Linked DNA regions of Homo sapiens. The protein of the gene in region 2 purifies or fractionates together with the protein of the main gene of each other region. This does not show direct contact. Each region holds a gene or a part of one and is shown on either strand. Other genes may lie near its edges.

Region 1 (3,500 bases), on a different chromosome or scaffold from region 2:
GTTCTGTCATGATTGGGCTAATGGCTGGGAGCTGACAAGTCAGGAGCTCTTCTCTCTCCTTTGCATCTTCACTAGGGTACGAGTGAGAACGTAAGAGAGAGTTAGGGAAGCACAAGGCATCACTGAGCTTCCTGTAGCGTCTGGGGAAACAGGAGGCAGATAGGCTTCCTTCACACACTGAGCGAGAGTATGGCCACAACTCTCAATGCATGTCCTGGTCTGGAAGGGTAATGTGTGCCAGGAACTCTCAGCTTTGACGTAGCCCAGGAAAACCGACGAGGTCTTCTCTTGTTCTAAGATGAGACAGAGTGGTTGGATGACCTCTCAGTAATGAAGTCATGGGATGAGAAAGAGAGAGAGAGCACACTGGAAAACCCCACTGAGGGCAGATCCTGCGCTAAAAGTAAAGATGGGGCTGAACATCCAGGAGGCTGTGATTTGGACTCTGGTCAGCATCCCTTCAACTGAGAAAGGCAAAGCAAACCCTCGAGATGTTCATGAGCATCATTGACTCAATGACCCATCATCTTCACTTTCTGAGGCTCAGGTCAGGTTAGGGAAACAATTGGCTGGAAAAATACTGTTTGCCTAAATACAGTCATGTCACTCAGGATGGACTAATGAATCAGAGTTTCCTAGAGGGGTTCTTCATGCCTGAAGGAAAAACATCCAAATAGCCCATCATTTGTGCCCACTGATCCAAATGTCTTCCAGGTCCATGAGTGGGCAACCCCACCTTGGAGGCAGTCGCTTTGCAAGGCATCAAGAAGCCCTTTAGGAAACTAGGATTCACTAGTCCATTATGAATTGCATGACTGAGCAGAAATGGTATGAGACCCAGATAAGTGGACATTTCCACATAAGAGAACATTTCCAGATAAGAGAAACCCACAATATGAATAGGATTGCTGCATCTGGGTGTGTGTTGTGTGCACTGCACAAAAGCATCAGACTAAAGGGATGAATGGTACTAAAGCCCAGTCCCCTACTCTACCCCCCAAATGTGTGGCTGGTGCAGGGCTGCATCTTCATATCTTCATAGAGGAACAAGGGTGGTTTTTTTTCCTAATTCACACAAAGGCCTTGCATAGGTTGGTAAACAGCCTTGGGTAAGTGGGTAGGGGTGGGGATGGTAATCCTCCTGCCCTCAGAATTAGCCAAGAGGTCCATTAATAAGTGAGGCTGGAGATACTCATTGGTGACTCCAATATACAGGACAAAGAAATCAGCCCAGGTGGGTGAAGACTGTGGCAACTAAAGGGAGTACTTTGCTCAAGTTCTGAGCTAGTAACAAATATGGCTGGTTGGGGACAACCTTTGGATAACACCACTCCCTGACTCCCATAAGCCAGGGGCCTCTCTGCATATGACTTTTTATAAAGTGGAAAACTGGAGAGAGCAGGGCCCTGAGCTGAGTCCCTGTGGACAGGACCCCAGAGGCCACCACACCCCTGATGGGGGCTCGGGGGACACTGAACTTGTTTTGATGGCAAAGATCAGTTTTTCTCACTCAGCAAAACTTCAGCCGTAGCTACATTCTATCTTTCTCCTTCTGTCTTTCACTCTCCTCGATACCATTGTGTCTAACATATCACACTTTATACACATTCCAATGATCAGCGCCTGTCTTGTTTTTAACTCTGCCTTCTCCTTAAAAAGAATAAAAAATAAGAATTATTTTTGCTCAATTCACAAATAACTGTTACTTTCGATGGGCAAACACATGGTTGTGTTCTAATCACGCGACAGGCATTGATTCTCAGGTGTGGTTTATCATCTCCAAAACGGCATGCCAAAATGCTGCCAAGTGGCTTACTGGAAAAAATATTGGCAAATGGAGGTGCCAGGGGTGATGCTGCATAACATGGGGAGATGCTGGGTGTGTAGGTGTGAGCCACTGAGGTGCTTAGAGGGTGGAGAGTCTAAGAAGCCATGTTTCTCTGTGAGAATAGTGTATGTAAATGGAGGCTAGAGACCAGAATTACTTTACCTTTAAGAGAATTAACTTTATGCTTCTACGGATAGGTAAGCCAGTTACACAACTCATCCCCCCAGCAATCCATCTGCTCTCTATTACTATCCTTCTGGTATTAAAGAAAAAGAAAAAATGGAAAAGGGGCCACAGATTGGTTAGGAAAAAAATGAATGTTTGTTCATCCCTACAGGTAAACTTCAACACATTCACCAGTGATTGACACAGATACAGGAGAAAAGGTCCCCTAAATTGGAAGGGCTAGGAGAAGGCTCTCATTTGAAGCCTGACTGATGATCATATCTTTGCTTTAGAAGCAATCTGAATTTGTTGTTTTAGATTTGGGTCTCTTAAATGAGCATATAGTGGATTGGTAGATTTTGTCCTGATCCTAAGAATTTTCAACAACAGCAAACTTGGTTCTGTTGTAATAGCAATAACAGTGCAAAACATTTGGCTTTGAATCCAAGATCCAGGGATATTAACAGCTTAATTAGTTAGGTCTCTTTCTTTTTCAAAATGTTTATTTACTGGAAAATATAGAGACAGGAGGCTGCCTCTTTGATTTGTAAGTGAAGGGCAATCAGCATATTAAAACGCTGATTCCAAGCAGCTTCATTCATGCAGAGGAAAAACTCAACCTGGTTGGCATTTGTTAGGTGGCTGCCAGAGTGTCAGCGTGTGCACAAAAGAGCTTCCAGCCCTCTGCCTTTACGAAATGAGTGAGAACTGCCTCTACCCTTCTGTATGGAGTATTTTTCCCTATCATCTGCACTCCAACACAAAAGACATACACAAGTGACAAGTAGAGTGTGTTCAGCAAACACTCGCGTGGGTCACATGCTAAGTGGTTCTACTTGTTCTTCCCCATCCACATCAGAGTGTGGGGCACCCACTTGGCTAAATTCTACCAAAACTGCTGATGTATAGAGCAGAGTCACTGGGAGAAAAGAAACCAGACACCTAGAGCACCAAGTTTCAAAATGATTTAACTTTCAGAAAATTCTTAAGGCAAACTTTATCCTTTGAAGTGGGGCTTCAAAGAAGGGCTGGTGAAAGTGACTGAGTAGCCAGGGAAAAATCCTGCAGGCTCACGAAAGGAGCTGCTGGCTCCCCTACAGTGAGGTTCAGCAGTGGAAATGTCTGCAGCAGCTACCCAGGGCCGGGCATCATCCCACTGTCTAATACAGTGAAGAGCCCAGTAGAATAGCTGCAGCCTAATACAGCAGCTGAGCCAGTGCTCCACGCAGTTCAGGTGTAAACAAAAGGGAAAGCCTGGGAGATGCCAAGTGAGAAGCCAGGCTGCCAGATATCCATTTGCTTTCTTCCTTTCTTTACCGCCATATATTTTGAAAGCAACTTTCAGCATCTGGGCTTCAACTCCAGAAATCCTTTAACTTAGCCAGCTAGGATATAAAAGGCAATAAAACAGCAGGGAATTCTTACTGTGAACTTCATAGCATTCAAGTTTAAGGTGACCAGATGGTTTATCACCCAAACTGGGACACTTTCAAGAGTGAAAGGCAGG
Region 2 (3,500 bases):
CAGCACCTAGCACAGAGCCTTGTACACAGTTCAGGTAGAACAGTAAACAGTTGCTGAATGAATGAGCATTCTGTACATTTTCTCTTAATTTTCACTATTATGACTCCAGAACTGCTGGATAACTACAGTTTTAGCTGGTCTTCCTTCCTCATCTGATCAGCCCATGGAAGCCAAATGAATTTCACTAAAACACTGCTAGACCTAACTGTGATGCTTAGTACATAGGTACTCAATAAGCATTTGAATCAACAAATGACAGCCAAATTGTCCAGTGTTTTTACTTTCCTCCTCTGCTCAAGAACCTTTAAAAACTGCAATTTTAACCTTTCCTATCAAAATTGTACATACTTTGTGGGCAGACAGTGTGGCTGATAATAGAAAAAGGTAGTCAAGTGGAATAGAATTAAAACTCTGGACTCTGGTTACCTCGATTAGAATCCTGGTGCCATTTACTAGCCATATGACTTTGGACAAGACAGTTCTAAGCTTCAGATTCCTGATACAACCCAATGAAGGTTGTGTAGTACCTACCTCATTGGATTTTATAAGGGCTCAGTGAAATTTAAGTGAAAAAACGTATATGAAAAGCACTTAACAAGTTCTAGCACGTGGAAAACATACCATGTTAGCCATTATGTTTATCACTTCTGCTTTCCTCATAACATCTAGATAACACTGTGCTCATAGTAGGTGTTCAGAAAATATCTAATGATTTTATAAGAGTGACAGCAAATAGAGACCAGTTAATAGCTATCTTAATATTGACATGAAATACCTATAACAAGGAATTTGATTCTACTAATTTTCCATCAATTAAAAATTTTTTTCTCCATTCATGTAGCAAACAGTTATTGTGTGCCTACTATGTGCCAGGCACTTTGCTCTAGTGAATAAATCGTTCATAGACCTATACAGATTCATCCATACTCTTCCCTTGAGCCCTTCATTAGCATAATTTGCATTTGCAAAATGACCTCCTGAGATAGGGATATTATTATCTGTGGCCAAGAAGAACAAAGTCAACTAGCCCATGTAGAGATGATACTATCCAATCATCTATTATAACTATTTACAGACATCACTGATAGAGTAACTGTTTGCTAAGGGAGAAACTGATAACATTTTTTTCAATTTCAAAACTGATAACAGTTTTTTCAAATGTATAGCTGAAGTTTTATTTTTGCCACATAATGATTCTAAGCACTTAACCTAAGCAATCCCCTTCTGCTAGAGAGGCAGTGTTTTGAATGGAGAAGTCACTGGACCTTGTATCTGAACATCTAGTGCTTCCTAGCACTGCCTCTTGCTGGTTATATGACCTGGAGCAAATCACTTAGCCTTTCTGAAGATAAGTTTTCTATAAAATAAATAATTAATAAAGTAATAATACCTCCCTAGAGTTGATATGAGGATCAAAAGAAATAGTAAATATGAAAGCCCCAAATGGTTTAAATTGCTATGTCAATGTCATATGTTATCAGTGTGACTTTTTTTTTCCCTCAAAGCTTGGTGCAAACTCATGTTTTAGGTTTTATAGTATCTAGACACCCCTCCTTTGTTCTGAATAGATTGTATTAATTCCAGAACTTTTTTCTGTTTTCTTTCTTTTGAGAGCCCTTCTTTTATCAATTCCAATTTTGTTAAACCAAGACAGGACCATTAAGAGACCTAAAACTGGAGCCCCAGAAACATGTTCTCCACTACCACAGTCGTATGGTCACTCACACTTTCACCTGCAAACAACCAGCACAGGCATTCTAAAAGATCTGTTTTCTTTGCTACTAGATTTTATCAAATTCATGTATCAACCCTGTTAATTTTGTCATGACTTTTGATCAGTGTGATGTGATCTGGTCATTAAATTACAGAAATTTATATTCATTTTTAGATTAGGAGATATTTCAAAACAGAGTTTCTTGGGAGGACGGGAAGGCAAGGATTAAGAAATAATTTTAAAAGTGGTGGGGCCTTGATGGATTGAAAAAATTTGAGCCTTACCTGAAGCATGGAAGTATTCTTTTTGTGAGGACCAGAAGACCCACAAAAATAGTCCCAGTGACTCTACGTTAGGGGCAGTGAGAATTTGTGGTAAATAACTGCAAATGCATGGAGGCAGCCAAAATCTAGGATGGGTGGGCTAGAGAGTATTATTGGAGGTATCATAGTATTATAGTCTTGTGTATTTTAATTTAGCATAACTAAATATGCACAATGCTAAGTGCAGTACAATGTATTATGGATATAGAAATAAATCCATAAATTCCTTGAACCAAACAGACAAGCTTTCTGCCCTGAAGGGACTCAAATTTGTACGGTGGTGTTGGTTGTGGAAATAGGCAATAAAAAAATAAATATGTAAATACATAATATATTACATGGTAATAATTGCTATGGAAAAAAAGCAAGATAAGATGGCTAGGAATAGCATCAGAACTCACTCTGACCCGAGTCAAACTCATCTCAAATTTGCTCCCTCCAGGGTTTACCTTCTTGATTAATGGCACACCAATCCTCCCACCTAGAAACCTCAGAGTCGCCAACTGTTTCCCTCCTTCCACATCTCGTTGTTTAACAAATATCCTGGTGGTTGGTTGATTGTACCTTCTAAATGTTCTTAAAGCCATCTCTTCCTTACATTTCCACTACCAACAGAACCCTATAATAAATGCCCTCTTGGTCCAGTGTAACCATCTGGTCTCCTGTCTCCGGATAGGACAGTTCAACACTGTGTTTCTGAAGGACATCTACTGTGCTACAGAACATAGGGTGCAGATAGAAGCCAATGGGCTATGAGGCCATTACCCTCCTCCCTTATGAGAGGCCAGTTTGTTTTTGTTGGCTCTGGGTCTCAGGGAGTAGGGTTAGGGAAACAAACCAATAAAAAATAACCATCCAGTTACTCACTGTTTAATTTTAATGCTTTGCAAAATGCTTTCTATGGTATGTTACTTTTATTGTTTATTTCCAGTCATATGCAGTTCCCCTTCTCACCAACAGTTGAATGTAAGCAGGGTTGTTGTGTCCTGCTTACTGCAAGAAACAAATTTGTAGCACATATTAGGTAATCCATAAACAGTTATTGATCAATTAATGAATAACTCAGACTTTTCATCAAGGCTAATCTGTCAGCCAGCCTGAATTATTGAGGTGTTACTGTGAAACAGTATGAGTGAAGAAGTTTGTGAATTGGATCTTGAGCTGGGCATGGTGGCTCAACGCCTGTAATCCCAGCACTTTGGGAGGCTGAGGTGGGAGGATTGCTTGACCCCAGGAGTTAAGAGACCAGCCTGGGCAATATGACGAAACACCATCTCTACAAAAAATACAAAAATGAGCCGGGCATGGTGGCACATACCTGTAGTCCCAGCTACTCAGGAAGTAGATGTGGGAGAATCGCTTGTGCCCAGGAGGTCAAGGCTGCAATGAGCTGAGATCGCAACACTGCACTCCAGCCTGGGTGACAGAGCAAGACCCTGTCTCAAAAAAAAAAGAATTGGATC
Region 3 (4,081 bases), on a different chromosome or scaffold from region 2:
TCATAAATAATCCGCCACTTACTGTGGAGACTATATTTGGTGGTGCTTGCCTTTCCCTGCTTCAATATATTATGTTGTGAACATTGTTGATAATAATGTCTTTAACTGTAGAGCCTGCCACATTCATGACATTCCAAAAATATTCTGAGGATTTCTGGGCCGGAAGATGAGGCCATCTCACATTTAAAATAGGACTTTGCAAGTTATTTCTACTTTTGTGTTCAGAACTATCCAGGCAAAGACCCTGGATAACAGCTGAAATGCTGGTTTTTGTTTTTGTTTTTTTATTTTACGAGTGGACACAATTCTCACCTGAGTCCTGTTAGTCTTGTTAAAATCAGTCAGATGGAGAGAGGGGCTTGGGGGAAGTGGGGGCTCGCTATAATTTTAATTTTGTGGTCTGTCTGGGACACACCTCAAAATTACAAACCCTGGCCCCCTACCTGTTGGGATGTCGCCTCTGAGTCTGAAAACTTTCTGCTCCTCTTTGGTTTGTTTGCAAACGTCGAACTGCCAAGAGTTCTGAGCTCCTTGGGTTGGGGAAAGGCACCTGGGCCACCGGGTACTTCATGCACCCACCTGGCCCCGAGGGGCGGCGGGAGCTGACTTTCCTTGAGCACCAGATGCCCCGAACCGGTCCAGCCTTCCAGGTCGCCCTCCAGCCTCCGGGCTGCCCTGCGCCCCCGGCTATCTGCAGCTCACCGCGCCAGGCCCCGGGCCCAGCGTCCTGGACGGGCCCAGAGAAAGCAGAGAAGGTGTGGCTCGTCCCAGAAAGGGACAGAAGGAAAGGAGTAAAAACAGAAGCCAGGCAGCCAGCGGCTTGGCCTGAAATGCTGGGGCTTTCTTAGGCTCACTGGAGGTTGAAAAAAGTTTCCTTTGTCAAGCAGTGGCCACGTGGCGCTATGGCGGTCACTACCGGGAATTAACCACGGCCACCCTCTCAGAGCGCCGGGCGCGGACTCAGGGACACGCCGGCTACCACCTGAGCCGGGTAAGGGGAGCCCGAAACCTGCGGGCACCGCGGTAATCCACTATGGAGGCGTAAAGGGGGACTCGTGGGGTCCGCGAGGGGGTGGCGGGGGGGGGCCCGGAGGGAGGAGCTCCCGGGGAGGGGGCCACGGAGGGCCGGGGTCCCGGGGCTTGGGGAGCTGGGTTGGCTTGGAGACCCGGGTACGCGGCGGTGCAGGGCGGGGTTCCCGGAGGGGGCGGGGCTCCGGGTGGCGCGGGGCGGGGCGAGGGCGGGCACAGCGAGGGGCGGGGCGCGGGCCGGGAGCGGCGGGCAGGCCGGGCATGGCGTCCATGGCGGCGGCGATCGCGGCTTCGCGCTCGGCGGTCATGAGCGGGAACCGGCCTCTGGACGACCGGGAGCGAAAGCGCTTCACTTACTTCTCGTCGCTGAGCCCCATGGCCAGGAAGATCATGCAGGACAAGGAGAAGATCCGCGAGAAGTACGGGCCCGAGTGGGCGCGGCTGCCGCCCGCGCAGCAGGACGAGATCATCGACCGGTGCCTGGTGGGGCCGCGCGCCCCGGCGCCCCGAGACCCCGGGGACTCGGAGGAGCTCACGCGCTTCCCCGGCTTGCGCGGGCCCACGGGCCAGAAGGTGGTGCGCTTCGGGGACGAGGTAGGTGCGGGCCTGGCCGCGGACCCTCTTCCCCTCCCGGCGCCCCGAGGCGCCCCGGCCCGGTGGGCACCTGCCGGCGTGAGGCCGCCCCAGCTGGTAGGGGCTGGAAAAGAAAAGGCAGGAATGGCAGTGGGTGGGAGGGGAGCCCCAGAGCCGAAGTTCGGGGGGTGGGGGCTCCGCTGGGGGAGTTGGTTAAGAGATCGCCGAGAGGTGGGTCGTTAAAGAACCTCCATCTAGACCTGATCCGCCGGCTCGCACGGACTCCAGAGACTTCTCCCGGAGCTGTCGTAAGCGAGGCTGACCAAAGTGGAAACAACAAGCAATTTTAAACCAGACAAGCCTGGGTTTTAATCCAGCTCTGCTACTTACTACCTGTATGGCGGTGGGTCAATTAACTTCTTAGAGCCTCAGTTTCCACTGTGTAAAACGGGGGTAATAACGCCACCCCGTGCCTGCCCGTGAAGGGACTGAGCAAATGATATATACTAACATGAATACTTGTGATGAGATGTATGGGGAAAGTAAAATTGCCAAGCCAGGTAACAAGGAAGAAAAGGTGTCTTCCAAGATAAGGAGGGAAACCCATCCATCACCCTAAGATGTTTTCCAAGTGAGCACAATGCCCAGCGTATGTTTTAAGGGTGAGCATGGTGGCCCTGTTTTCCACCAAAAAACTAAGGGACGATAAGTTTAAATGAGCTCCAGTAAGTCTTGGCCACATAACAGGGCATGTTTAGGTCTCAGATCTAGACACTGTCCAGACTGCTAGAGGGACAGTCATTTGTGAAGGTAGAAACGCTGAATCTGTTCCAGAAAAAGCTCAGGGATGACCCACACTTAGTCACAAACGCCTGAATCTTCTGTAGGGTTCAGAAACTTGGTCTTCTTTTTCTTAGAAATGTGTTTAACCGAAGCCTGTTTGGTGCCATTAGAATTTGCACTGTGACTCTTTGGCGTTTCAAACTCAACTTTTGCCGTGAGGAGCAAAGTCAAGCTGAGCAAAGAGTGTAGGAATGAAATCGCTCGCTGTTAAGGCTGTTTCTTGGGCTAGAGGAAGGAGAAGCTGGGAGAGATTTTTTCCGAGGAAGTTGTGGATTGTGGATGGAATTCAAGTTAAGGAGGTTTAGATCAGATTTTCAGGCTTGGGTGTGCTGAGACATTTATTAATACGAAGTGTTCATGGTCATAAACCCACTTTAATGTGAGGGAAAAGTGAAATGACTGAAGGATGCTGCCAGTGTTTCTTTATTCTGATGGAATCAAAAGGAAATTCTCTACTGGACTTCAAATTCTGATGGCTTTGCCAGGAAAAACAAGGGTGTGGTAAACTGGGGAGGGGAAAATATAGGTTTTAAAATGTATTCCTAGAGCTGAAACATTTTCAGTGGGAAAATAGGCGTATTTATAAAGACTTGTGTGCAGTGTTTGCGCCCAGATTTGGGGGATGAAAAAGCAGGCAGCACTCCTTTGGAAGAGTCACGAATAAATATGACAGGAAGTAAACTTCTAAGTACTTACAAATGTTGGAGAGTGACTGTCATTTTCCCTTAGCTTGGTGTCCAGCTAAGAATATCTACACGCCTACTCATGATGAAAAAGCCCATGTCATAGAAGAGCCCAGTATTACTGACAAGGAAGAATGTGGCCAAGTTAATTTTTTATTCTCATTCCTCATCTGGTGCCAGACTGAGCCGTTTCTGAATTTGTAAACTCAATGTGATTTAAAAGCAAGTGGAACTGTGCCGTGCTGTGGTGCCTGTATGTCCTTCCAGGAGTAACTCAGGAGAATTGAATCTCAGCTTTGCAAAACCAGCTGAGAGCATGTTCTGAAATGCCTCTGACCAGCCTCAGCTCAGACAGCAGAGGGGCAGATAGACCCTGAATTTTAACAGAGGTACATAGGAACATGGCCCAGGGTACATTTTTGCCTGCAGTGTCTGCGTAGGTTAATAGCAGTAGGGAATTTAAATTCCCCTGGACTGCGCCAGAGGTAGGCACCAAAGTGGAGTCAGTTGTCTCATTGTTGTCCCCAGGAGATCATTCATGGAGGAGGGCCAGCTCCTGGGCACAGGGATGATGGATAAGGACAGGATAGGCTGCTGAACAGAGGTACCCCCAAATAGGTGACCCCAAGTTTGTCCTAAAGGACTGTAAACTAGATAGAGTGGGGCCCAATGTCTCTTCCCACTTGATCAGTCTTCTGATGTGGTCCTGGGGCCTCCACAGCCCTTTCCGCTGCCCTGAAGGACACTGCCTATTTCTTTGAATGGTATCCTCTCCCCCATTGCCAGTAATGTTTTTCTATCTCACATAGCAACGTTTTAAGTCAGAGCATGCAAATACAGCCTCCAAATGTGGTGATCATCTTCTAGACATTTCTTGTGTATTGCAGGAACAAATAGAAATTGATTATATGATGCTGATCACAGATCTTGGTGGTTTTGAATGTGGTCAGGGG
Region 4 (3,500 bases), on a different chromosome or scaffold from region 2:
CATTACTAACTTGCATCAAGTGCCTGGCCTGAGTCAGTCATGTCAGGCATTGCTCTATGCTTTTCCATGTATTAATTCATGACTCAGATTATCCTCCCAACAACCTTATGAATTAGGTACTATTATCTTCATTTTACAGGTGAGGAAATCAGACACAGAAAGGTTAAGAAATTTGCTCAAGGTCACACAGCAATGGAGCCAGGATATACACCTTGGCAATCTTAACCATTCTACTGCCTCTCCCATAAATGAGTGCATCTTTAAGAATAGTATATTCTGGAACATAAATAATCTTCAGGAATATATTATTTCCTTCAGCTGCAGTAGCAGCAACAGGAAAGGGGAAGAGAAACAAACTCAGAAGTCTTTAAGAATGCAAAATGGAAACTTTTCAGCTCAAACTAAATGGTTACACAAAAACAAATAAAGTTAGTGAATTGGCAGTCTCATAAACTGGCCACTTGGTCAATGGGCTTTTGGAGAATCGGCTGGTTTTCCTATTAGTCTTGGCTGCTTCACAACCTCCAGGACCTGGAGTTGGTCACTTAACTTCCTTAATTTGAACTAGCATTGTGCTAATATAGTAGCCTCTGGCCACATGTGGCCTTTTAAGTTTAAATTAATTAAAATTACATTTAAGTTTAAATTAATTAAAATTAAAGTTTAAATTAATTAAAATTAAATTTAAGTTTAAATTAATTAAAATTAAATTTAAGTTTAAATTAATTAAAATTAAATTTAAGTTTAAATTAATTAAAATTAAATTTAAGTTTAAATTAATTAAAATTAAATTGAAAAAGTCAGCTTCTCAGCCATGCTAGCCACACCTTGAGTGCTTAACAAGCTTATGTGATGAGCAGCTACCACATGGCCAGATACAGACATCTCCATCACCACAGGAAGTTCTACTGGACAGAGCTTTCTGCTCTGGACTCAGGACCCTCCTGGCTCCAGTATTCTGACACCACAACTAAGCCTGCAAGGTGAAAGGAAGGGAAGAAGTCCCCCCCTTTTTCAGATGCAGAAACCGGAACATCAAGGAAGGGGAAGAGTGAAGACTGTGATTTAAGAGAATGCTCTTGCGAGGATGATTTATCTTCTGTATTCACAGTGCAAAGAGGGAGACAGAGCACTGCCTGGTGCCTGCGGTAACAAGGGAGCCCTTGACACGCTGGCAGCATGGTTCTATGGCTGAAAGCTCATGGGCCATCTCAAAATCCTACCTCTCCTCTTTAACACAACCAAAGGTCAAGAAATAACTATTGTCTCAGAAACCTGAGTCCCACATTTTACTGTGCAAAAATTAACCTCCTTCTAGTTTCCCCCATGCCAACGTGAATGCATCCGGGCAAAGGCCTGCCCATCTGTGAGCACGGAGGAAAATCGATGCTAATCGCTCCTCATCCTTGCAGGCGGGTCCGGCTTCCTAAGGCAGCCCACATTAGCAGCCAGCCGGGCAGGAAGGCCCAGACTGCTCAAAGCCCAGAGGACAGAAGGAAGCACTGCCTAATGGGCAATGCACAGAGCTGGCTTGATTTATATTTTATTCTAAACCAATTTAGGGTTGATGCAAAAGAAAGGAAAACATCTTTGAAGTTCTGAAAAATAGGACTTCAAAGATGTTTTCCTTTCTTCTCCATCGAATCTACTTTTTTTTAAGACTGTTTCCTGCATGTCTAAACAAAAAAGCCTTTGTTGAGAGATTTCAGATCCTGATTGACTTAAAAGAGGCTTTGAAATCAAGGGACAAATAAGTTTACTTTTAGCTATATAGAAGAGGGTATGGTATTCGCTACTGTCAAGCATTGTGGGGAATCTATCCTCATAAAATTCTACATTTCCTAAATTAAATTATAAACCCATTTTCCCTGGGAGAGAGTTTTAATCACATGGCCCAGCAAATATAATCACGGTTTAGATTTCTTTAAATACTTTCCCTCTAAAAAAAAAAAAACTCTAATAGCTTTATCATAAGGGGCCCACTGAGTTTTATTTCCTTGCTATTTCTTGAGGATAGAGAAAGGAAGAATATAAGCTAAGAAGTCTTGTTAATGGCTCTAAATGCTAGAAAAAAAAGTCAAGACAGGCAAGTATCTTATATGAATAGCTCTCCTTACAGCAACAATGCAAAATGAGAAGAGCAATTTAAAAAACAAAATGGGTATTATGGGTATTTATTTATCCAAGATCTCAAATGAAACAAAGCAGTAAGAACCTGGAGGTTTGGTCTCCTTCCGTGGCTCTCAATTCTTTATCTTACCTGAAGAGTGGACTGTCGCAGCACACGCAATGATACATTCCTGCTTCCTTGTTATTCAGGTAGATCCCACTGAAAGGCTGAAAGTAAATTAGATATGTCATGTTCAGATTTCTCATACTACTGGCAGGAGTTGAAACAGCAGATTTAAATCCTGGGTAAGTCCCCAAATCAAGGAATTTCTGTACTAATTTGACGAAGTGCAAATAACGCCAGAGAGAAAATTATAATGTACCCAATGAAGCAGCCTGCAGATGTATTTACAGCCTGGGCTTTATTGCACCCAATATTCAAATTATGACTTTGATAATCTTTGTATTCATACAGGACTTTTCATCCAAGAGCATCAAAGTCGGTGAAAAAGCAAGAAAACAGAGTCTTGTCCTCTGTGACTGTGTGAGATTTCGGTCTCCCTTTTAAAAGAGTTAATACAACAGGAATCTAGTCCACTGTCTAACATACTTTGAAATCTCCAATTAAAGACAGAATATAAATACATAAAAAGCATAGTTCAGTGAGATCAGGCATTTTGCCTTTAATATGCTTCACATAATGTTTAGGACACAGCATACTTAATAAATGTTAAATAATGAGCTAGATTCCCCACCCCCTCAGTGCCCAGGTTACTACTTAGATGAAATTACTGCGTTCATTGTGGGTTACAGGGTTTGCAAGTTTTCAGAGGTATTCTGAGAGGAGAACAAGGAGACAAGTCAATGAATTAGCCAAGTCAATATTTTTTAAAATGTTATTTCTCAAACTTGATTTTTTTTTTTTTTTTGAGATGAAGTCTCACTGTCACCCAGGCTGGAGTGCAATGACACGATCTCAGCTCACTGCAACCTCTGCCTCCCAGGTTCAAGTGATTCTCCTGTCTCAGCCTCCCGAATAGCTGGGACTACAGGTGCACGCCACCACGCCTGGCTAATTTTTGTACTTTTACGGGGTTTCACCGTGTTAGCCAGGCTGGTCTCGAACTCCTGACCTCAAGTGATCTGCATGTCTTGGCCTCTCAAAATGCTGGGACTACAGGCATGAGCCACTGCACCCGGCTGATGACTTTTTTTTAAAGACCATTTTTGCCCAATTTCTTTTGTCATCTCCCCTGTCAAAGAAAATTAAATAAAAAACAACCCTTGCACAAGCTGACCATGAAGATCCGCTATCACAGGGCCTGGCGGCAGGCACTGTCCCCTCCTATGGGCCAGAGGAAAGCCAGAGCACAGAACAGCTCACCAAGTGA
Region 5 (3,500 bases), on a different chromosome or scaffold from region 2:
AAAGGTCTGAGATTATTTTAGTGAATGCAGGGAAAAAAGAAAAAAAAATCCTATCACACAATCAAAAGAAATATGATAGATATGGAAGGCAAAGGTGATGAAACAAATAACTATATTTCCTGAAATAGAAAATCCAGTAAGTATAACAGAGAAAATATTCAGAAATAGAAATCAAAAAATTAACCCTGATGTAAAGGAAGGAGTAAATCTGGCCTCAGTATTCTCCAAAACCATATTCAAAAATGAGAAGGCAGCCAGGCATGATGGCTCATGCCTGTAATCCCAACATTTTGGAAGGCCGAGGCAGGAGGATCACTTAGGCCCAGGAGTTTGAGACCGGCCTCAGCAACAGTGAGACCTCAACTCTATAAAAAATTTAAAAATTAGTGAGGCATGCTGGTGAATGCCTGTAGTCTCAGCTACTCGGGAGGCTGAGGTAGGAGAAATGCTTGAGCCCAGGGGATGGAGATTGCAGTGAGCCATGATTGTATCACTGTACTCGAGCCTGGGCCTAGGTGACAGAGCAAGATCCTGTCTCCAAAAACAACAACAACAACAACAAAAACAAACAACAACAAAAAACCAAACCAGAAGGCAATTGATCAGAAATGTCTAAAAAGATCTCAGAATGCTATACCCAGTTATGGTCTTTTTTTCTTCCTTTTAAATATTTTTATTTTATTTTAATTTATTTATTTAGAGATAGTGTCTCACTGTGTCGCTCAGGCTGGAGTGCAGTGGGCACAATCATGGCTCACTGCAGTCTCAACCTCCCAGGTTCAAGTGATCCTCCTACCTCAGCCTCCCAGTAGCTGGGATTACAGGCATATGCGACCATGCCCAGCTAATTTTTTATTTTTTGTAGAGACGGGGTCTCACTATGTCGCCCAGGCTGGTCTTGAACTCCTGAACTCAAGTGACCCTCCCGCCTCAGCCTCCAAAGTGCTAGGCTTACAGGTGTGAGCCACCATGCCTGGCCTAAAAAATTTATTTTAAAAAAGTAATTTATCTCTTACAGTTGTGGAGGCTGAGAAGTCCAAGGTCAAGTGGCCACATTTGGTGAGAGCCTTCTTGCTGGTGGGGACTCTGTGAAGTCCCAAAGTGGCACAGTGCATCACACAGTGAGGGGGCTGAGCATGCCAACATGCTATCTCTTTTCAAGTATAAAAGTAACAGGCAGAAATTCTGAAACATGAATGAACTTAAAAATACAACACATTCCAGCTCTTGTAACAAAAAACCACTGGACAATTGTGATTCTTGAGCATTCTGAAAAAAAAACACTAAAAAACCACTAGACAAGAAATCCTGCCCTCCAGCACTTGCGAAGGTAAAAGCGAAGCAAGTTGTGAACACTAAATACACTGAAACGTAGGACCCACACTGTAGCTGAAGGAATGATGAGTGCAGAACAGATAATAATAAAACTAACAACAAAAATTAAGGTCGGGGAAAAATAAGAATGGGTAGAAATTTAAGTACTAATTGCCTCATCTTTCACTGTAGGAAGTCAAATATTCTGTTCTATATATATGAAATTAAATGTAATATGTTCTGTTTTAAAAACAATAGCTTATATATCCTATTTTTTTGAAACTACTTCCATTTATCCTGTCATCCCTTAAACCAGACATGATGGGCACCAAAAGTTAACACTGTTCCTTTCTGAAAGATGGGATATTTAGGGATTAGTTAATGATGGTTAGAAATCTTTAGGAGCTATGCTTATGAATGATTTTTCCCCTTTTCTCTGCTTTCTTATATATTCTGTATTTTGAAATGCATCCATATACATTAAAAAAAAAAAAACCCAAAAACCTGAATGCTTCTGACCATAGATGATAAATCATGAGACGATTAAGAATGACAAAAAAGAACAAGACTGAGAAAAGACTCTGCTATAGAGAAAACCAAACTTGTTTAAAGGCAAACGAGCAGAAATTAGCAGAGAAGAAGCAGACTGAGAAGCAAGGGCCCTTGAAATGAGTAAGGGTTCCACCAGTTCACTAATAAACCCCATCTAAATGCCAGTAACTCCCAAATTAATACCTCCATACCAGGTCTTTCCCTGAACCCCATATTCCTATCCAACTACTTACTCATGAGCATAGTCGGCCCTCCCTACATGTGGGTTCTACATTCATGGGTTCAACTAACCGCGACTGAAAACATCTTGGGGGGAAGCATCTGTACTGAACATGTATAGAACTATTTTTCTTGTCATTACTCCCCAAACAATACAGTACAACAACTATTTACATAGTGTTTACATCTTGCCCCTACATCTATTCTCTAAACAGCAGCTAGAGTGATCCTTTTATTTATTTATTTATTTGAGAGGGAGTCTCAATCTGTTACCCAGGCTGGACTGCAGTGGTGCGATCTTGGCTCACTGCAACCTCCATCTCCTGGGTTCAAGCAATTCTTCTGCCTCAGCCTCCCGACTAAGAACCTGAGATTACAGGTGCCCACCAACCCGCCCGGCTAATTTTTGTATTTTAGTAGACAGAGCGTTTCACCATGTTGGTCAGGCTGGTCTTGAACTCCTGACCTCAAATGATCCAACTGCCTCGGGCTCCCAAAGTGCTGGGATTACAGGCGTGAGCCACCGTGCCCAGCCTAGAGTGATCCTTTTAAAGCATAGATCAGATCATGTCTTTCCTTTGCTCAAAACTCTCCAATGACTCACATCACATCTTACTCAGAATAAAACCCAGTCTCTACCATGCCCTATAAGGTATCATATCTTATGATTTCCAGCACAGGTTCCTGCCTCAGGGCCTCTGTGTTTGCTCTTCCCTCCATCCAAAATGTTCTCCCCACAGTTGCAAGGTTCACTTTCTTACTTCATTCAGATCTCTTCTCCAATAATGTCAGAGAGGAGTTCCCTGACTTTTCTACTAAAATTCCATCCCCACACCCTTTTCCTGCTTTATTGAGAGCAATAATTCTGTCTCTTTGTTTATAGGTATCTCCCTAGAGCTTAAAAAAGTATCTGACACAAAACAGGTACTCAGTATTTGTTAAATGAATGAATCGATAAAAGAACCCAGGATTTTATTATTCTCAAAATATTATAAAGTCTTTCCTTCTTATTGATCAGACTACTTGCATCACTATAATTCAGACAAATATTATTTGTTCTTAGTGAGCAGTACATGTAAGTTATGAAAAACTCTACCAAGCCTAGGAGTAAAGGTTGGTTTCTGGTCAATTCCACACATGTGTGTTTGAGGAAGGCAGGCGTTGTCACCAGAATCAACCAACACAGACCTTAGTAAGTGGAAAAGAGAGCTCTGGCTGCCTTATCACCTATTTACGACAGAGACTTCAGAAACTAATGCTGGCTTTAGAAAAAAAGACGAAAAGGAGAAAAAAAAAAGAAAACATAAACTAATGTTGGCTTAACTGTACCTGTCCCTGTTGGGTCACCTCCTTGGATCATGAAGTCTTTGATAATTCTGTGGAATTTTGTGCCATTGTAGTAACCTCGACGAGCC
Region 6 (4,194 bases), on a different chromosome or scaffold from region 2:
GGATTACAGGCGTGAGCCACCGCGCCCAGCCCTAAATAGAATTTTTAAAACATTTCCTTTTGTTAAGATTTCTACTCCATCTTGCCAGGCGCAGTAGCTCACGCCTATAATCCCAGCACTTTGGGAGGCCCACGCAGGCGGATCACGAGGTCAGGAGATCGAGACCATCCTGGCTAACATGGTGAAACCCCGTCTCTACTAAAAATACAAAAAAATTAGCCGGGCGTGGTGGCGGGCGCCTGTAGTCCCAGCTACTCAGGAGGCTGAGGCAGGAGAATAGTGTGAACCCAGGAGGCGGAGCTTGCAGTGAGCTGAGATAGCACCACTGCACTCCAGCCTGGGCTACAGACTCCCCCTCAAGAAAAAAAATATATATTCTACTCCAACTTTATTTTATTTATGTATTTATTTGAGATGGAGTCTTGCTCTGTCGCCCAGGCTGGAGTGCAGTGGCATGATCTCGGCTCAATGCAAGCTCCGCCTCCTGGGTTCATGCCATTCTCCTGCCTCAGCCTCCCGAGTAACTGGGACTGCAGGCGCCCGCCACCACGCCCGGCTAATTTTTTTGTATTTTCAGTAGAGACGGGGTTTCATCGTGTTAGCCAGGATAGTCTCAATCTCCTGACTTTGTGATCCGCCCATCTCGGCCTCCCAAGGTGCTAGGATTACAGGTGTGAGCCACTGCGCCCGGCCTACTCCATCTTTGTTATGCAGGTACAGCAGAAAATCTTGAACAAAGGATCACCAAGGAGAACCAGCAGAACCAGAAGGTCTCCAGCCCATTTGTTATTCCAATTAACAATAATTTTGTCTTGGGGGGGGGGGGGTGAGCCTTGCATTGTTTTGCTTAAATGTATCAAATTTTTACAGGTAACTGCAGTTTATAAATGAAGATCCAGCACAATGTAATTCTAGCACATTTCTAGTTTTAAAAACAACCTTTGGCCGGATGCGGTGGCTGACGCCTGTAATCCCAGCACTTTGGGAGGCCGAGGCGGGCAGATCACCTGAGGTCAGGAGTTTGAGATTAGCCTGGCCAGCATGGTGAAGCTCCGTCTCTACTAAAAATACAAAAAAAGCCGGGCGCAGTGGCTCACGCCTGTAATCCCAGCACTTTGGGAGGCCGAGCGGGCAGATCACGAGGTCATAAGATCAAGACCATCCTGGCTAAGATGATGAAACTCCGTCTCTACTAAAAATACAAAAAAAAAAAAAAATTAGCCGTGCCTGGTGGCCGGTGCCTGTAGTCCCAGCTACTCGGGAGGCTGAGGCAGGAGAATAGCTCGATCTCGGGAGGCACAAGTTGCAGTGAGCCGAGATCGCGCTACTGCACTCCAGTTTGGGCGACAGAGCAAGACTCTGTCTCAAAAAAAAAAAAAAAAAAAAAAAAAAAGAAAGAAAAGAATAAAGAGAAAGAATCAGCAGATCATGAACACTTGACACTGATTTTTGGGGGGTGTTTTTTGGTCTCCAACTCCTGACTTCAGGTGATCCGCGTGCGTCGGCCTCCCAAAGTGCGGGGACTACACGCGTGAGCCACCGTGCCTGGCCCACGTGACACTGTTAAAAACGGAAAAAAAAGGGGGACTGTTAATTTTCCCAAGTTGCTCAGGAAAGTTATAGCTGGACTGCGAGAAGAGAAGCGAAACACTGTTTTCATTTAAAGTTCACGTAGGTAACTTTGGAGGTAAAAAAGCCATTTCAACTTTCTTACTATCAAAGTTGACACATACCAAATTTTAACTGTAAGTCAAGTGGTCAGTTTCTCAGTTTGCTATGTGACTGAACAAAAAACTTGTTATCAAGCAGGAATAAACTTTCATTAGACATACGCTACGCAAGAGTCACAGGCGGCCAGTTAGCAGGGAATATAAACTAGCAGAGCCAAACCAAGTCCACGTTGTATTCCAGAAACTACCGGTTGGAGGCGTTCCAGGGAGGAAGAGAGGATCTTTCGCAAAAAAAAAAAAAGAAGAAGAAGTAGCAAACACACAAATCCATGGCATTAAAAAAAGAGACCGCTTTGTTATTTACAACATCGTGGTATGCCGTGATTGTGTTGCGCGCCGTTTCCAGGGAAGGTGGCCAACGACGCACACGAAATACCATGATCGGCCGCCGCCGCGCAGCCCCTCGCCGCGGACGCTACCCTCGCCCCCCGGGCCCGGCCTCGGAGAGCTCGAAGGACCACCGGACAGCGGGCGCCTCGTCCCGGAACCTGCCTTCCCTGTGATGCCCACCCGCGTGTGGACTACGCGCGCTGCCGTCCAGCTGCCATCCCAACCAGCCGACCCACGAGCGCGGCCCGGCCCGGCTTCCTCTCAGGGGTCCTGGCGCGGGCCAGGGGGAACCGGGGAGGAGGGAGGGCCGGTCGCCGGAGCAGAGCGCGCGGGGACAGGGTGGAGCCCAACTACCTGAGGATGTTGTGCGCCTCCATGCTCCGGTTCTGGTTGCTCGAGCACACCACCGCCACCCGCAGCGGGGACGACGGCATGGCGGCGGCCGCAAATCCCGCGGCTCTCCCGCTTGGGTTCCCACCCTACCGCGGCGCTTCCGCGCGAACAAAATGGCGGCCGCGGTGGCCGGAAGCGGGCGACGCGAAACGACGGCGCCGGCGGTGTAGCGTGCGGCGACTGCGCGGCGGCCTCCCCGCCCACCCTGGGCGCCGGGCCGCGGACGGAGCGCAGGCACTGGCCTTCGGGCGCGCTGCACTCGGCGAGGCCGGGGGCGGCCAACGCCGCGCCGGCCCCCGGCGTCCGCAGCAGAGACCCGCACTCCACAAGGCCCGGCTGAGCGTCACGGCGCCAAGCGGCGGCGTCCTGACATCAGCACCCCGCGCCGGCGCCTAGTGTGACGCGACGACGTGCGGAACAACAGGACGTCATAAGGTGTCGCCGCCGCCTTTGGGAGCGATGCGAAACGCCGCGCTTGCCGGAGATAGCATTGAGGGCCCTTCCGCGGCCCGGCGTTTCGTCTCTTGGGACGATTTTGTGCGTTCCCTCGGTCCCCGTGGGGCCCATAGTCCTCACTTCTGCCACCCCAGAGTCGTCGCGCTTCACTAGACCCGCTCCCTCCACTGTCCCGGAGGCCCACAGACATTCCCGCATTCTGAGGCTCGCTCCCGTCCCGTGCCGCTGTTACCGGCCTCCGGCCCCGGCTCATACAAGCAGGAGCACATCGCTCTTTTATGAAAGCCCTTCAACATTTAACGTTTAAATGCGAGGGCCGACCTGTGACAGACCTGGTTGGGAGTGCACGTCGACTAGGATCTTCCTCGCCTCGGGCTTCCTTGGAGAGGCCGCCGGCTGGTCTGAGATTTGGGTCCAGTTACAGTAAATCCAGTCAACGCGAGTGTGTCATTCCCCAGCTATGCCTGTCTGCCTGGATGCAGCCTCGCGGTGGACAGTGGGCTGATGTTTTGCCGTGGGAGCGCCACGGACGGGAGAGGGAGTGATAATGATTGTCAACCTAATAACAGGCTAACTGAAAATGATATTTATTTGGGAATAGGGCGTTGGCGAATATGCGTGCCATAGTAAACGATTTGCGCATTCAGGAAAGTAATGGTTTTTAAAGAAAAAATGAAGAGGAAGATAATGGTTTGGAAATAATTAACCTTGGCTACAAAGAACAGTAACAAGTGTACTCCCGGCCGGGCGCGGTGGCTCACGCCTGTAATCCCAGCACTTTGGGAGGCCGAGGCGGGCGGATCACGAGGTCGGGAGATCCAGACCGTCCTGCCTAACCCGGTGAAACCCCGTCTCTACTAAAAATACAAAAAATTAGCCGGGCGTGGTGGCGGGCGCCTGTAGTCCCAGCTACTCGGGAGGCTGAGGCAGGAGAATGGCGTGAACCCGGGAGGCGGAGCTTGTAGTGAGCCGAGATCGCGCCACTGCCCTCCAGCCTGGGCGACAGAGCCAGACTCCGTCTAAAAAAAAAAAAAAACAAGTGTACTCCCGTTCCAGGGTTGGACAGGCAGTTGCTGGGCAGCTGTCCTTGCTGAAGTATTTTTTGTGTAAGATTGCCTTAGTGCAAGGTTGTGGTTTTTGCAGAATCTTGTGATAGTTTTTCTTATTATTGATTCATGAGAATTCTCCATGGCCTTTCCCAGCTGTCTTTGTCAAGGTATTTTTTAAACATAAGTGAGTCCACTTTTATTTGACAACTTGGGTATTTTCCCCTTTTGATTGAGAT
Region 7 (3,500 bases), on a different chromosome or scaffold from region 2:
AGGGCTTCCTCCAAATGTAGGGAGATATCCAGGCTTCCCCCCCTTTGGAATCTCTCCCCCACCAGTGGCCCACTCTTGGCCTTTCAGGCCTCTAGAACTGCCTTTGGATTGGACTACCCTTCCAGGTCAGCAGAGAAGCCCAATGTCCCCATCTCACTAAAACCTGGCAGGCACTTCCACAGAAACTCCGGGGTGCACACAGGGCTCCAAATGCCACCTCTTCTTTACCCCAAATCCTACAGCTCTGTGGGCTGCCCGGGTCTAATGGAAACCACACAGAGCACACCCTCCACTAAGTGCTGGGTAGTGAGAGTGTGCAGCTCTCCCTCTGCAAACCCCAGTTTCCTTGTCTGAGCTCTCTTCCAGCTCCCATGCTGGAGTCCCATGAGTAAGGGCTGTGCTCCCTTCTCCACTACCAGGTGAACCAAAGGTCACAGTGGCCTGTGATACCCCCTCCCCACCCTGCAGCTTCTCGGAGGTGCTGGCTGCCCCTGGGAGCCCCGTTTTGGGAGGCCCCACTTACTGCTCCTGAGAGGCCGGGGCCCAGCTCCATACAGAGGCCTCATGTGGCCAGCCAAGTCCCTCTCCTCTCTGGCCACCATTGTTCCCAAGGTAGAAATAACCTCAGGCCAGCTCAGTAAGGGCACTGTGATCAGACTCTTCCCTGAAGGGACTGCCAGGTGCACAGCAGACTCACATGTGGACTCATTTTTATTACTTGGCTGTGGGGAAGAACAAAACTGCTTCATGGCTACACTATTTTGCAAAGGAAAGAAAAAGAGGACTGCTTCCCCTGGAGCAGAGCCACAACAGCTTCTGTTCTTGTATTCATCATCTGTCCCTGCGTAGGGTGAGAAGGGCAGGAGAACATCTGGACAAGGCCAGGCCAGTGGTTTAGACAAGAGCGTCACAGCACTGAGGTGGCAGCAGTGACAAGTGGGGCGGGCAGCTCCCAGCAGAGAAGGACAGCCCTCAAGGTCACCGGGATGTGGCTCTGCTGAGCTGTGCCTTGCAGCCAGCTGCCTACAAGGAGAGACAGGTGGGGCAGAGATGGGGCTGACCACAGGCCCCTTGAAACTCCCTGGTCCCAGCCAGGGCTCAGGGCCAGGGGCAGATGGGGAGGGCAGGGGAAGCTGCCAGGCCAGAGAGGAGGAGCTGCCCAGCCTGACTGAGGAGTCACACTTCCTACCCCGCCCCACACCCCAAGACGCTGCTGCTCAAGCAACCCCAAATAAAAACCACCCCATAACTAAGGGCCGTGGAGCCTCGGCATACCAACGACTGGCTTCTGAGTGCAGCCACACCCTTCCTCTGCAGCCAGAGTAGACCTCCCCAGCAGTGCCACAGGCCTCCCATGCCAGCTCTGGGGCCGAGCAGGAGCCAAGGCCAGGGGCTCAAGTGACCACAGCTGTTTCCCGAGGGGCAGAGTCACACCCAGAAGCCAACAGAGAGAAGGCTGTGGGGTCACGCACCATCTGCCCACCAACTGTCTGCCCAGGCTGTCTGTGGGCTACGGGATAGATGGAAGCCCTCAAAGACCATCCCAGCCTTAGGCTAATGGGATGCATGTCCCCTCAGGTGCCTCCCAGTGCCCCCAAACCCACCCACCTAAGGAGGTCTCAGAACACCATGACCAGCCAGGCAGAAGGCTCTCATCTCAGACCTACATCTTTCACAGCCTCAGCTCTCCGAGCTCCCTTGCCAAGTGGCACAGTCTAAGCAGGGGCTGAACGGAGCCTCTTGCAGGCCACAATTCATGGTCACAACAGTTTTAGTCTTTGTGATGAAAAAAGACAAACTGATCCCAACCCAAGCTGAACCCACAGCCTTTGCTTTCCCAAGAGGCCAGCTTCTAACCATTGATCCAACAGGCCCAGGATGACGATCCTGTCTGCCACACTCCAGGCCTTACCGCAGGGACCATTTCACCCTTATCAGGATGAGGGAGAAGGTGGACAGGGGCTCCATATAACACAGTTGTGCTCTCTCCTCCTCTCCTAAAACACACAAAGACCAGCATTCCAGGGGGCAAAGACCAGGTCTCCCCAACCAAAATGGCCTTGTGGCAGATGCCCTGTCTTCTTACTCCAAAACCTTTGCTGCTGCTTCCTTCCTTCCCTCTTCTGATATATCCAGGTCCATTCCCTGGGGGTGTGATCCACACCAATCGCATAAAGACCAAAAAGGTCCAAATGACCCATCTGACCCCACAGGGAACAAGGAAAACTAACTAACCACCACATCCCATCCCTGTCTTGGGAGTTAGGGAGGCAAACACAGGACACCCACTGGGGAGTGCTAAGAAGGACGTTGGGCCAGGCGTGGTGGCTCATGCCTGTAATCCCAGCACTTTGGGAGGCCAAGACAGGTGGATCACCTGAGGTCAGGAGTTTGAGAACAGCCTGGCCAACATGGCAAAACCCAGTCTCTACTAAAAATACAAAAATTAGCTGGGTGTGGTGGCACATGCCTGTAATCCCAGCTACTCAGGGGACTGAGGCAGGAGAATCGCTTGAACCTGGGAGGGAGAGATTGCAAGTGAGCCCAGATTCTGCCACTGCACTCCAACTTGGGCAACAGAGTGAGACACTGTCTCAAAAAAGAAAAAAAAAAGGATGTTGAAGATAAAAACCAGAAAATAAATCGCAGAGAAGCATCCAGGATTTCCAGACCAACAGGAACATGACGATCCATGGACAGTTCTACTGAGGGTGGGGAGATCATTAGTTTCCTTGTGTACTACCATTACATTTTGTTTTGAGAATATCCTCTTCAATTATTTGGAAGCCTCTGGTGAAATTCCTCATTTCAAAGACTGCCCCACTCACACAAGACCTTCGGAGGCTGCTGAAGCACCTACAACCCCAGCCACCACCATCACACAAAATGGGGCCCCAGAGTCACCACCACGCTAATATTTTGAGAGCTTCTATGTATCCAGAACTACATTAAGGCTTTTACAGATGGTGTCTTATCTAATCTGTACAACTCTATGATTATTATCATGACCTTTTTCAAAGTGAGGAAGTGGGATAAGTAACCTGTCTGCTGGTAAGTCACAGAACGGGGAGTGAAATCCCAGTCTCCAGGTTTTTAAGCCCTGGGCCATCCTTCCTTCCCAACAGGGCAGGGGCAGCTCCAGGCAGGGCTGCCAGGGAGGAGAGCTGCAGAGCTGCGGGCTTATCTGAGCCTGGTTTCAGGACTGCAGAGGCCTCTCAAGCCCAGCCCTATTTCTTGGGCCTCTTGCAGCAAATAGAATACAGAGAGCTGCAAAGGGCCAGCTCATTTTGTTGGGAACTCTCGTACTCTTCTGTGTACTCCGTCACCCATGGTCCTAAGGCTTTCCTAGGCTCTAAGTTCTAGACTGTCTCCCCCATCCCATAAGAAGCTCTTCCAGACATTGTTACTAAAATCTCCCTTCACCATCACTGCTCTGCACTGACCACCTACCATGTACAGGGACTGTACTAGGTGCTTAAGCTGCATTTTCATTTCATCCC

The links.
Region 1: the proteins of LACTB2 (region 2) and PALM2AKAP2 fractionate together in Homo sapiens (co-fractionation; one large-scale study listed by BioGRID). This does not show direct contact.
Region 3: the proteins of LACTB2 (region 2) and C1orf198 fractionate together in Homo sapiens (co-fractionation; one large-scale study listed by BioGRID). This does not show direct contact.
Region 4: the proteins of LACTB2 (region 2) and MSRB2 fractionate together in Homo sapiens (co-fractionation; one large-scale study listed by BioGRID). This does not show direct contact.
Region 5: the proteins of LACTB2 (region 2) and PPIL1 fractionate together in Homo sapiens (co-fractionation; one large-scale study listed by BioGRID). This does not show direct contact.
Region 6: the proteins of LACTB2 (region 2) and SSU72 fractionate together in Homo sapiens (co-fractionation; one large-scale study listed by BioGRID). This does not show direct contact.
Region 7: the proteins of LACTB2 (region 2) and RAB11FIP5 fractionate together in Homo sapiens (co-fractionation; one large-scale study listed by BioGRID). This does not show direct contact.

The regions. Positions count from the first base shown.
Region 1 is NC_000009.12:110,157,698-110,161,197, reverse strand, and holds part of PALM2AKAP2 (PALM2-AKAP2 protein isoform 3 (PALM2-AKAP2)), read right to left. Parts: intron 1-3,500. UniProt on the Homo sapiens protein: Binds to regulatory subunit (RII) of protein kinase A. May be involved in establishing polarity in signaling systems or in integrating PKA-RII isoforms with downstream effectors to capture, amplify and focus diffuse, trans-cellular signals carried by cAMP.
Region 2 is NC_000008.11:70,662,686-70,666,185, reverse strand, and holds part of LACTB2 (endoribonuclease LACTB2), read left to right. Parts: intron 1-2,906; exon of another isoform or gene 2,907-3,500.
Region 3 is NC_000001.11:230,865,722-230,869,802, reverse strand, and holds the start of C1orf198 (uncharacterized protein C1orf198), read left to right. Parts: upstream 1-1,281; 5' UTR 1,282-1,290; coding exon 1,291-1,623; exon of another isoform or gene 1,624-1,999; coding exon of another isoform or gene 2,000-2,005; intron 2,006-4,081.
Region 4 is NC_000010.11:23,109,079-23,112,578, reverse strand, and holds part of MSRB2 (methionine-R-sulfoxide reductase B2, mitochondrial precursor), read right to left. Parts: intron 2,338-3,500; coding exon 2,261-2,337; intron 1-2,260. UniProt on the Homo sapiens protein: Methionine-sulfoxide reductase that specifically reduces methionine (R)-sulfoxide back to methionine.
Region 5 is NC_000006.12:36,868,304-36,871,803, forward strand, and holds part of PPIL1 (peptidyl-prolyl cis-trans isomerase-like 1), read right to left. Parts: coding exon 3,415-3,500; intron 1-3,414. UniProt on the Homo sapiens protein: Involved in pre-mRNA splicing as component of the spliceosome. PPIases accelerate the folding of proteins. Catalyzes the cis-trans isomerization of proline imidic peptide bonds in oligopeptides. Catalyzes prolyl peptide bond isomerization in CDC40/PRP17.
Region 6 is NC_000001.11:1,572,064-1,576,257, forward strand, and holds the start of SSU72 (RNA polymerase II subunit A C-terminal domain phosphatase SSU72), read right to left. Parts: upstream 2,801-4,194; 5' UTR 2,495-2,800; coding exon 2,415-2,494; intron 1-2,414. UniProt on the Homo sapiens protein: Protein phosphatase that catalyzes the dephosphorylation of the C-terminal domain of RNA polymerase II. Plays a role in RNA processing and termination. Plays a role in pre-mRNA polyadenylation via its interaction with SYMPK.
Region 7 is NC_000002.12:73,106,449-73,109,948, forward strand, and holds part of RAB11FIP5 (rab11 family-interacting protein 5), read right to left. Parts: intron 1-3,500. UniProt on the Homo sapiens protein: Rab effector involved in protein trafficking from apical recycling endosomes to the apical plasma membrane. Involved in insulin granule exocytosis. May regulate V-ATPase intracellular transport in response to extracellular acidosis.